Regions from separate parts of the Homo sapiens genome. Here region 1 is linked to region 2. The links come from fine-mapping of genetic effects on gene expression. Tissue or cell type: whole blood. Region 2 holds a variant in brackets; the other region holds the start of a gene. All regions are shown on one strand. Distances are between the middles of the regions. Region 1 holds the start of MAGI2-AS3 (MAGI2 antisense RNA 3). Region 2 has its middle 47 kb from the start of MAGI2.

Region 1 (5,384 bases), 47 kb after region 2:
TTTTATCAAAATGTCAGGAGAAATTAAGTATTATGTGTAAAGCCTATAAAACAACATCTTGCATGTAGTTAGAACCTAATAAATATTAGTATATTCCATGAATGGTAGCTTGTCATTTGGTTTTACAATATGTATATATTCGGTTCTCATGATGAGTTTCCATTTAGAACTATGCCTCATAATGCTAACACTCAACTTCTCTGGGTGAGATTAGGCTTTGCTATCAAGTCTTGCCTACTCCTGGGCATTGCCTGCAGCTCTGGCTTCAGATCCTGGCACTGCCCCTGGCTCACTGAATAAGCTTCAACTAGTGCAGCCAACTTACGGAGGATCTGTTTTCTCAAGTGAAAAAAAGACACAAGGTTAAACAAATCATCTTTTTTTAAGATCTCTTCCAGTTCTGACTACATTTGATCCCCCTCATCCCCAAGTAGTAAGTTATACCTAAGAGGGAAAGAGGAGGGAATTATCATTTCGAACTCCTACTCACCTGTGCCAGGAGAGCACTGCTGTGACTGATTTCCCTGATTTCATCCTCACCACAGTCCTAACAGATTAGTATTGTTAAAGTCCATTTAACAACTAAGAAAGCTGAGGCTCAGGAAGGTCAAGCAGTTTACTCAAGATCATATTCTCAGTAAGCCGCAGAGTCTGGATTGAAACCTGGTCTTTCTGTTTGGGTCGACTCAACATTTTTAACCGTATTGTTTGCCTCCTACATCGCCTTCATCTCAGACATTAAGAATCCTACCTATTCAATGCTTTTCATCCTCCGCTTTAAAGAGATAAGTGGGTGCACAACTTTTTTTTTGCCTGAAACATATCATCTAAAAGTTAAGCAAATGAAATTCATTTACCAGTTACAGGAATCTTTTTCTTAAATCACTGTTAATGTCTCACAGGAAATTAGCTCTTCAGTGGAAATCAGCAGCCTCCCTGCATCCTTTTGCCCCTGTCCTCCCCTCTCTTGGATGCAAACCTGGCGAAAAGAAGGGAACACTGCTTGGGGTCAGCGAGCTGAGTTCCAGCTCCGAATGTACCATTTTCACCCTCGGGAGTCTTCTCCCCTTTCTCTGTGAGCAAAGGAGTGTTGGGCCAGACCGTCTTAAGGATTCTTCCCCAGGTACAAGCCGGACTCTGGCGGCTTTCCTGGGCAAGGGAGTGTCTCCGCCTTGTCTCTGCCGCAGGTCCCTGGTTAAATTGTCAATTTCTCTGCGGAGGCTGCTCACTGCATCCGCTCCCTCCACCCCTAGCCCTGTAGACCCCTTCTCTTTCCCCTACTTGGGAAAAGTGAAGCCCCTTATCCTTGGATAGCCTTTCACCAGACAACCGCAGCCGTCCGCTAAATTCCCCTACTGGCGGGACGCGCGGGCGGGGGCCTGCCCCGGGGAATGCGAGGCTGCTTCCCTTCTGCGTAATCAGGGTACGCAGCCTCCAGTTCTCTAACTTTCTCCTTCTCTAAGAGGGAATTTCGAGAACTTTAAGACAAATAAGTGACTATATAGATGAAGACATGAAACCTCTCTACACAGTGAACTCCCCCACGCTACAAGGCTCCCAGGGATCCCAGGCCTTCTCCCGCAATGCCCCGCCGGGTCCCCCGCCCCAACTCCTTCTCACGGCAGGATCCCGCGCCAGGACGCTCGCAGAGCCCGAGATGTGGCACCAGGCGCGCCACAAGTCCAGGTCCCGCTATTTCTGCTCCATCGGAGCCCAGGTCGGAGGGAGTCAGCGCGTCCTCCTCGCACAGGAGCCTGGCGCGCGGCTCGGTCGCACAGAGGCTGAAGAAAGGTCCGCACTGGGCTCGAGGCCCTTCCTGCCGGCCTCCCCACGCCGGGCCTAGGCTCCCCTCCTTCCCGGCTCCCGCCTCCTCCCGTAGGCTGCCAGGCGGACCCAGCCTGCCTCTCTCTCTGCCTTCACTACCGGGTCAAGCTGCGGAGGGAGGGAGGGAGGCAGCGGCGAAGCCCTCCGTGGCTCCCCACCCGGCGCGCGCGCCCCTCCTCCCCTGCCTCCTCCCGTCTGCCAGTACAGTAGAACTAGTACACACACACACACACACACACACGCACACGCACCCTGCCACTGCAGCTGCCATGGATATCAGCTAACAACACACACCCAGGCGCGCGCGCGCGTTCCCACTCGCACCACGCAGGAGTGGCCCCCGGCATCCCTACCCTCCTTCCCCACCCCCACCACACCCGCTCACCAGCTCGGCTACTGCTCGCTCCGGCTGCCGCCGCCGCCGCCGCCGACGCCACCACCACTGCTTCCTCTGCTGCGGGGCCACAGCCTTGAGTGTCATTCAAGGGACAGCACAACCTCATCCAAGCTCTCCTACCTCTGCCCAGCCGTCCCTCTCATCCTCCCCATTCCTCGTCCACACTCCATCCAAAGAAGAGGGAAAGCACCGAATAGAGGGGGGCGAAGGCAAAGTCTGCTGTTCTTCCCCCTGGGCCCCCTTGCTCCTCCATCCTCATTCTCTCACCACCAGCCCCCCTAACCCCAAGGAGCCCAGGAACTGAGGCGACTCGCCCCACTGCCATGTCCAAAAGCTTGAAAAAGAAAAGCCACTGGACTAGCAAAGTCCATGAGAGTGTCATTGGCAGGAACCCGGAGGGCCAGCTGGGCTTTGAACTGAAGGGGGGCGCCGAGAATGGACAGTTCCCCTACCTGGGGGAGGTGAAGCCCGGCAAGGTGGCCTATGAGAGCGGCAGCAAATTGGTGTCGGAGGAGCTGCTGCTGGAGGTGAACGAGACCCCCGTGGCGGGGCTCACCATCAGGGACGTGCTGGCCGTGATCAAACACTGCAAGGACCCCCTCCGGCTCAAGTGTGTCAAGCAAGGTGAGAGCAGCGGCTTGCTCAGTGTTTTGCCGGGCGGTGGGACCGCTCGGGGCGCAGGGCAATGAAAGGGTGGCCGCGCATGTTGAAGGGGGTGTGTTGCGCGATGATGGGGTGGGGGCCAGAGAGCACCCGCAGTGCAAGTGAGTTTCGCCGGGGATTCGACTTGGGGGCTAAAGGGAGGGGAGGGGCAGGTTGTGGTGTGGCGTGCAACTTTGTTTGCTCAGTTAGACCCTCCCCTTTGGAAGGTGCTCGGCCTGGTCTGACCTCCTCAGAGCTGCTGGGGCAAATTGAATGTGCGTCAGTGGCATCACCCGAAGCGGATGAAGAGCTTTTGGGGAAGGGAGGAAGGAAGAAAAGAAAGAAAGAATGGGAGGAAGGGAGGGAAAGAAGGAAGGAGCAACTTCAGGGTGCAGCGGCATCACCAGCGGGTCTGGGAAGAGAAGGTGGTGGGGTGAGCGGAGAACTGCGTCCAGCGTTTCTGGGGCTGGGCTGGGGGCGCCTGGGTCCCCAGCTGTCCCTTAGGGATCCGTGAGCCACCGCTGGCGAAGAAAAGAAGGGACAAATTGCTTTGGGCGCTTTGACGGGTCTTCTGTAACTTTTCCCCTTCTTCACTCCGTGTCCCCCTCCCCCGCTCACGGTCGTGTCATGTGGGCATCGCGCGTCACGTGCGTACTGACTAACCCCTGCGCTCACCCCTAGCCAGCCCGGGGGAGGAGGCTCCGGAAGAAGGCGCGGTGCTAGGAGCGCAGTCTAGTGCTGGGCGGGGGTCGGAGGAGATGAATGGTTGTCGGAGGAGATGAATGGTTGTCCGCATGGACTTTACTCAGGGGTTGCCCTCATTGAGTGGAAGTCCTCTGTGGTTGGGCTCTCCTCTGGCTCCGATTTGGGGGGCGTGTTTTGGGGGAGGAGCTGGATGAAACCCTGGCCGGTTCCAGCCCAGGCTCCCTCAGCTCCAACCTGACTTAAATGAACCTCAATTGGAGGCTGTGATGTGGATTTGGGGAGATTGGAATCATCCAGAACTCCCTGTCTTTGCTCGAAAGAAAATTATGGTGCAGAAGGAGAGAAGAGTGAGATAAAAGTTTGAATAGAGGACAACTTTAAGTAGAATAAAGTAGTAGCTTTTTTCTTTTCTGTTTTCTTTTTTAGCTCACTGCACAATTCGTGTGCGGTATGTATGGATATTTGCGTCACAGGCATATTAGCATAAGGGTTTGTTGTTGTCGTCGATGTACACTGTTTGTCCTGACTCAAAGGTGGAATTGAGCATGTCATTACCTGCATTTTGCCGCTTAATCATGATCAACTACTAAGAAATGCTTTTACGGAGATGTACCGCACTGTTAAATTATTCTCTAAAAAACTTGTTTTAAAATAAACAAGATAAAAAGAAGTACTGGGCAAGGTTTCTTAAATGTAAATTGCCATACAAGAAAATGTTTTCCTTGGGTATTCTTGAGTATTAAGAGGTAATAAATTGAGATAGGTTATTATAAGTCAACATAGCTCCATACTATTTAACACTGAAGGGATATGAGTTTGGTAGGAAGGAAAATAGAGTAACTTGATATTTTTGAAGATAAGATACCTAAGGTTCAAATACAGAGATTCATGTTAACATGTTCGATGTCAAAATACCACCTTATAGGAATAGACATAAATGGAAAGATCTTTGGGTACGAAAAGTCTACTACACAACTAATGACCATGGTTTTGTTGGCCAAATGCTTGATATTTGTCATGGAACGTGGCTGCAAAAGTTAAGCGTTGTTAAATTGGACTTAATAGAGTCCCACAAACGGATGCCCTATTATAGTTTGCAATGATCATCACATCTTAAATGTTGTGTTCAATTCTGAGCACTCCTTGTTGAGGCGGACGTTGGCAAACTGTCACGCTAGCAAAGAGTAAGTTCAAAAGAGAAATAAAGGAAGATTATTGTGTATTATAGATGTATTCTATGAAATGCCGTGGAAAGACTTAACGTGGAGAAGTGAAAGAATGAAAGCTATCATTAAATAGCGAAAAGCTATCAGGTAAGAAAAGGAATTCTGACTATCCTGTGATAGCCCACAGGACAAAATGGTGATAAATCTATGAGAAATTTGAAAGGATGAAGCAGCTTTACTTTCATTAAATCATGAGCTTTCTAACAGAGTTTTCCAAAAATTTGTGAGCACCCTGTTGGCTGAAGTTCCCATCATTGTGGGTATCCATGAAGAGGCTGAAATGACCATATGCCAGGGATTCCTATATAAGATGAGGACCTGGATTAGATATTATTTGAATCTTGCCATAATTTGATCTAATGTGGTTGGAGATCACTCTTGTATTGAATTTTATGTGGAAGATTATTGCTTTTAGAACTCAGAATATATGCTTCTAAAGTGATATATTGAGGGGAAAGTCTCTTTTCATTCTATATTAACCCTCAGTTTCGTGCTTCACTGGTTCATTGATGATAAATTTGTATAATGATAGCCAGAGAGCCCACAGTTGGTTCATCTCCTGAACCACTGCTGACCAAAAACAAAACAAA
Region 2 (5,384 bases):
AGATAATCCTCAAGTATCTGTTCCATCAGGTGGCTGAAGAGAACTAGGTCACCCATGGTTATATCTCCTTCCCAGGTAAAAGCGGCATAGAAAGACCTGTCTCCCTTCCCTCAATCAGAGTATCTCTGGAGGGTCAATCCATCTTCACATCTCCCCAGAAGATCAACTGAGGCTTCTGTTGAGACTGGATTGAGTTCTTGTTCTCTTTCTGGAAAATCTTGCTTCTTTCCCTTCCGCTCCAGAGGTGTTGATCCCCCAAAACCTAAATAAACCACCTGTATACTAATCTCCATCACAGATTCTGATTCCCTAAGAATCTAACCTGGCACAGGTAGTACCAGGAGTAACTCAAGAAAGCCATACTTGGATGGGAATTTGAAGCTGCTTTGCTCCCCACCACATGGCAATCTGTAAGTGGAGTACAGATAATCCCTTTCACAACTGGGCAGCACAGTTGTTGAAACAATCGTGGAGTACTGGGGTGGCATACCAAAGGATGTGAATGCCTTAGCTGGCACAGTGTAAAGCTGCTGGAGAAATACGGAGAGAAACTGCAATTATAAGAATAGTGGAATTGAATGGTTTTTACTAAGCTCACTCTGAGTAAGATAATATATAGGCAAGTGTGATTAATTAGCAATTAAAAAACTAACTGTGAAAGCCTTAGTGCCTCCTAGTGGTATACAAGAAGGCTCTCATCTTCCAGAAGTGAACACAGGACAAAGTCAAGATTTAATTATCAGATTAGCCTAGCTGCAAAGGATGAACTCCCAATTATGGCAAATATATGCTATTTCAAGGTTCAGACCATTTTGGGGAAACAATGGGACCTTGAGGCATCATGGGTGTATCTAGGCTGATACTCCTGAAAATTCTCATAATGACAAGTATAAATGGTCACCAGTCTCAGTCTTTTCCTAAAAGGACCTGCAGTCATTTACTTTGGTAACTGCATGTTAGGAAAAGGAAAATACTCAAACATTTTAGAAAGTACTGGAACAATAGTCAAGACATGTTAAAAGATGATATGAGCAGATATTTCACAGAGTGGGATAAACAGATGGCAAACAAGCACAGGAAAAGATGCACAATATCATTAGTCATTATGGAAATACAAATTAAAATCAAAATTAAATATCACTATACATCAATCAGAATGGCTAAAATAAAAAAATAGTGACAACACCATATGCTGACAACTATGTAGAGAGACTGGGATATAAAGTTTTACAGCCAGTCTGGAAAACAGTATGGCAGTTTCTTAAAGAACTGAACATGCAACTACCATATGATTTACCAATTGAATTCTTGGGCATTTATCACAGAGAAATTAAAACTCATGTTGACACAAAAACCTTTATATGAATGCTCATTGCACCTTTATTTGTAATAGGCAAAATCTGGAAACAACCCAGATATCCTCCAAAATAATTAAGCACGCTGTGGTATAATCAGATCATAGAATACTACCCAGCAATAAAAAGAAAGACTATCAATACATGCAACAACCTGGATAAATCTCCAGAGAATTACAAGGAGTGAAAAAAGCCAATTCCAAACATATAATATCTGTTTCCATTTACACATTATTACTTAAATGTCATAATTACAGAAAAGGAAAACAAGAGTTAAGGAGGAGATGGAGGTGGAAGTAAAGTGGATGTGAGTTTAAAAGGGCAACATGAGGGATCCTTGTGGTGATGGAAACATACTTGATCTTGAGTGAATCTATGTCAATATCCTCATTTTTCTATTTTACCATAATTTTGCAATAGCTCACCAATGAGGGAAACTGTACAAAAGGTATACAGGATCTATGTCTATTATTTATTACAATTTCATGTTAATTTACAATTACCTCAAAATAGAAAGTTAATTTAAAAAAGGTTTCAGGCTGTGATGTAAGCCTCTCTGCAGATGTCATGATATTAGAGGTTATCACTGGTGGGAAAATACATGATGTGGAGTTCATGACTTTTCCCAATCAGAGAACTATAACTCAGATCATAGGGGTCCTGTAGCAAGGTCATGGGATATGAAGCATTGAATTATAGGCCTTTTGGGAACACCCCTTGGTGTACAGCTAGGACCTGGTAGAGATAGCATGCCTAATCATGGAAGACTATGTGACTGTGAAGCCAACTTTGATATATTTATACAGTGCAACAATACTCAGCAATAAATACAGAATGAACTACCTACACAAAAGAATATGAATGAATCTCAAAACTTTTTGCTGAATGAAAGAAGACTGACACAAAATAATACATACTGCAAAATTCCACTTAAGTGAATTTCTAGTACTGAAAAAATAATTTTTAGTGTTATAAATTAGATTAAGTGTTGTTTGGGGTTGAAGTAAAAACAGACTAATTCTAAGGAGGCAGAGGGAGTCTATGGGGTGGTAGGAATGTGCCGTATCCTGCCTTGGGTAGTAGTTACATGGATTTTTACATTTGTCCAGGCTCATTAAACTGGACAGGTAACGTGTGAGCATTCTTTTGCGTGCAATAAAATTGTTTAATAAAAGGACTCAAAACCAATTTGAATGAGCCCCCACTGGCAAAAGACAGGAGAATTGGGGCATTGTCTTAGTTTTTGTGTTGCTACAAAGGAAAACCTGAACATGGGTAATTCATAAGGAAAAAATATTTGGCTCATGATTCTACAGGCTGTACAAGAAACATGGTGACAGCATCTGATTATGGTGAGAAATTCAGGCTGCTTCCACTCAGGGCAGAAAGGGAGGGCCGGGCGCGGTGGCTCACGCCTGTAATCCCAGCACTTTGGGAGGCCGAGGCGGGTGGATCATGAGGTCAGGAGATCGAGACCATCCTGGCTAACAAGGTGAAACCCCGTCTCTACCAAAAATACAAAAAATTAGCCGGGCGCGGTGGCGGGCGCCTGTAGTCCCAGCTACTGGGGAGGCTGAGGCAGGAGAATGGCGTGAACCCGGGAAGCGGAGCTTGCAGTGAGCCGAGATTGCGCCACTGCAGTCCGCAGTCCGGCCTGGGCGACAGAGCGAGACTCCGTCTCCAAAAAAAAAAAAAA[G/AG]AAAAAAAAAAAGAAAGGGAAGGGAGCTGGTGTGTGCAGAGATCACATGATGAGAGAGCAAGCAAGAGAAAGGAGGGAGATGTCAGGCTCTTTTTAATTACCAGCTCTCGTGGGAACCTACAAATCAAGAATGCACTCATTATCATGAGGATGACACTAAGCCGTTCATGAGGGATCCATCATTTGAGCCAAACACCTCCCCTTAGGCCCCACATCCAACACTAGGAATCAAATTTTAACATGAGGTTTGGAGGGAGGCTGAGGCTGGAGAATCACTAGAACCTGGGAGGGGGAGGTTGCAGTAAGCCGAGATCACGCCATTGCACTCCAGCCTGGGTAACAAGAGCGAAACTCCATCTCAAAAAAAAATTATATATATATGTATATGTATATATGTAAATATGTATATGTATGTATATTTATATATACATGTATATATGTGTATATATGTATATGTATGTATATTTAAAGTATGGCAATCCCCCAAGCTCTGGAGTTTAACCCCTCTGCACCTCTGGCTCATTTGCCCTATAGCTTCAGGGAAGGTACTCACAGCAGGTGAAAATTTAGGCAGTGTGCTTGCCATAAGATGCTGTCAGGTCCAATGAGTTTGATTTCTCATGGAACTGTCCGTTGCATCAATGGTTAAAATTAGAGCTTGGTTAAGCTATTATGATGCCCCAGAATCAGAAGCATCTTCTACATTATCAATGAATGTTAATATCAGTATTCCACATATAGAGTATACTTCATAAAAATGTGATTATATCTATAAATCTTGAATGAATTTCTGCATATAATCATCAGTCTCAGGAAAGAAGAAAGGAAGGAAGAGAAGAAAGAAGGAAGGAAAGAAAGAAGGAAGGAAGAAAAATTAGAAGGGAGGGAGGAGGAAAAAAGCTTTTATCAGGTATGTGAAGAAATTTGAATGTTGACTCAATATTTGATGATTTTTAGAAATTATTAATAAAGCTGGAGGCCTTACACTACCAGCCTTCGAAATATACTACACAGTTGTAGTAAGCGAAACAGTATAGTATTGGCATAAAAACAGACACATAGACCAATGTAACCGAATGGAGGACACAAATATAAACCCATGCACTTACAGCCAACTCATTTTGACAAAGGTGCCAATAACACTCATTGGGGAGAGGACAGTCTCTCTAAAAAATGGTGTTGTGAAAATTGGATATTTATATGCAGAAAAATGACACTAGACCTCCACCTCTCACCCTATACAAAAAATCAACTCAAAATTAATCAAAGATGTAAATGTAAGACCTGAAACAATAAAACTACTAGAAGAAAATGTATGGAAAATGCTTTAGCACATTGACATGGGAAAAGATTTTATGAATGACTTCTAAAGCACATGTAACAAAAGTGAAAAATAAAAACCCAACAACAAATAGGGTTATATTAAACTAAAAAGTTTCTGCACAGGAAACAATCAACAGAGTGAAAAGACAGCCTACAGAATAAGAGAACATATGTGCAAATTACTCATCTGACTTGGATCTAATATCCAGCATATATAAGGAACTCAAACATCTTATAAGCAAACAAACAAACAAACAAACAAACAAACAAAAATCAAACTAAAATATGGGCAATTATCTGAACAGAAATTTCTCAAAAAAAAAGACATACAAATGGCCAACAAATATATGAAAAAATGCCCCAAATCACTAGTCAGTAGATAAATGCAAATCAAAACTATGATGAGATATCATTGTATCTCATGGCTATTCTCAAAAAGACAAAAAAATAAATGCTGGTGAGAATACGGAGAAAAGGGAACTCTTATCCACTGTTGGTGGAAATGTAAAGTAGTATAGCCACTATGGAGAACAACAATATGGAATTTCCCCAATAGACTACAAATAGAACTACCATATGATCCAGTAGTCCCACTACTGGGAATTTATCCAAGTGAAAGGAAATCAGTATTTCAGGGAGACATCTGTACCTCTGCGTTTATTGCAGCACTCTTCACAATAGCCAAGATATGGAATCAACCTAGACGTCCAACAACAGATGAATAGATAAAGAAAATGTGGTGTATATATACACAATGCAATACTATTCATCCATAAAAGAGAATGAAATCCTGTCATTCACGCCAACATAGATGGAAATGGAAGACATTATGTTAAGTTAAATAAGCCAGGAACAAAAAGTTAAACACTGGATGTTCTCATTCATATATGGAAGCTAAAAAAAGTTGTTCTCATAGAAACAAAAAGTAGAACAGTGGATACTAGAGGCTGAGAAGTGTAGGAGGGAAGGAGGGATAGCAAGCAATTTGTTAAAGAATACAAAATTATAGC

Evidence for each region. PIP is the estimated chance that this variant, and not a neighbour inherited with it, causes the effect.
Region 1: it holds the start of MAGI2-AS3, and the variant in region 2 is fine-mapped to the expression of MAGI2-AS3 in whole blood (INTERVAL, PIP above 0.99).

The regions. Positions count from the first base shown.
Region 1 is chr7:79,450,481-79,455,864 of GRCh38, reverse strand. MAGI2-AS3 (MAGI2 antisense RNA 3) reads right to left here and starts at 2,908. Exons shown (of 4, transcript NR_038346.1): 1 at 2,674-2,908; 2 at 2,210-2,278. MAGI2 (membrane associated guanylate kinase, WW and PDZ domain containing 2) reads left to right here and starts at 2,198. Exons shown (of 22, transcript NM_012301.4): 1 at 2,198-2,845. The coding sequence starts at 2,545. RefSeq lists an enhancer at 3,458-3,752.
Region 2 is chr7:79,497,638-79,503,021 of GRCh38, reverse strand. No RefSeq gene overlaps it. Among named protein-coding and RNA genes, the nearest start is that of MAGI2, 47 kb to the right of the region's middle. The variant G/AG (reference allele first, on the strand shown) is at 3,052.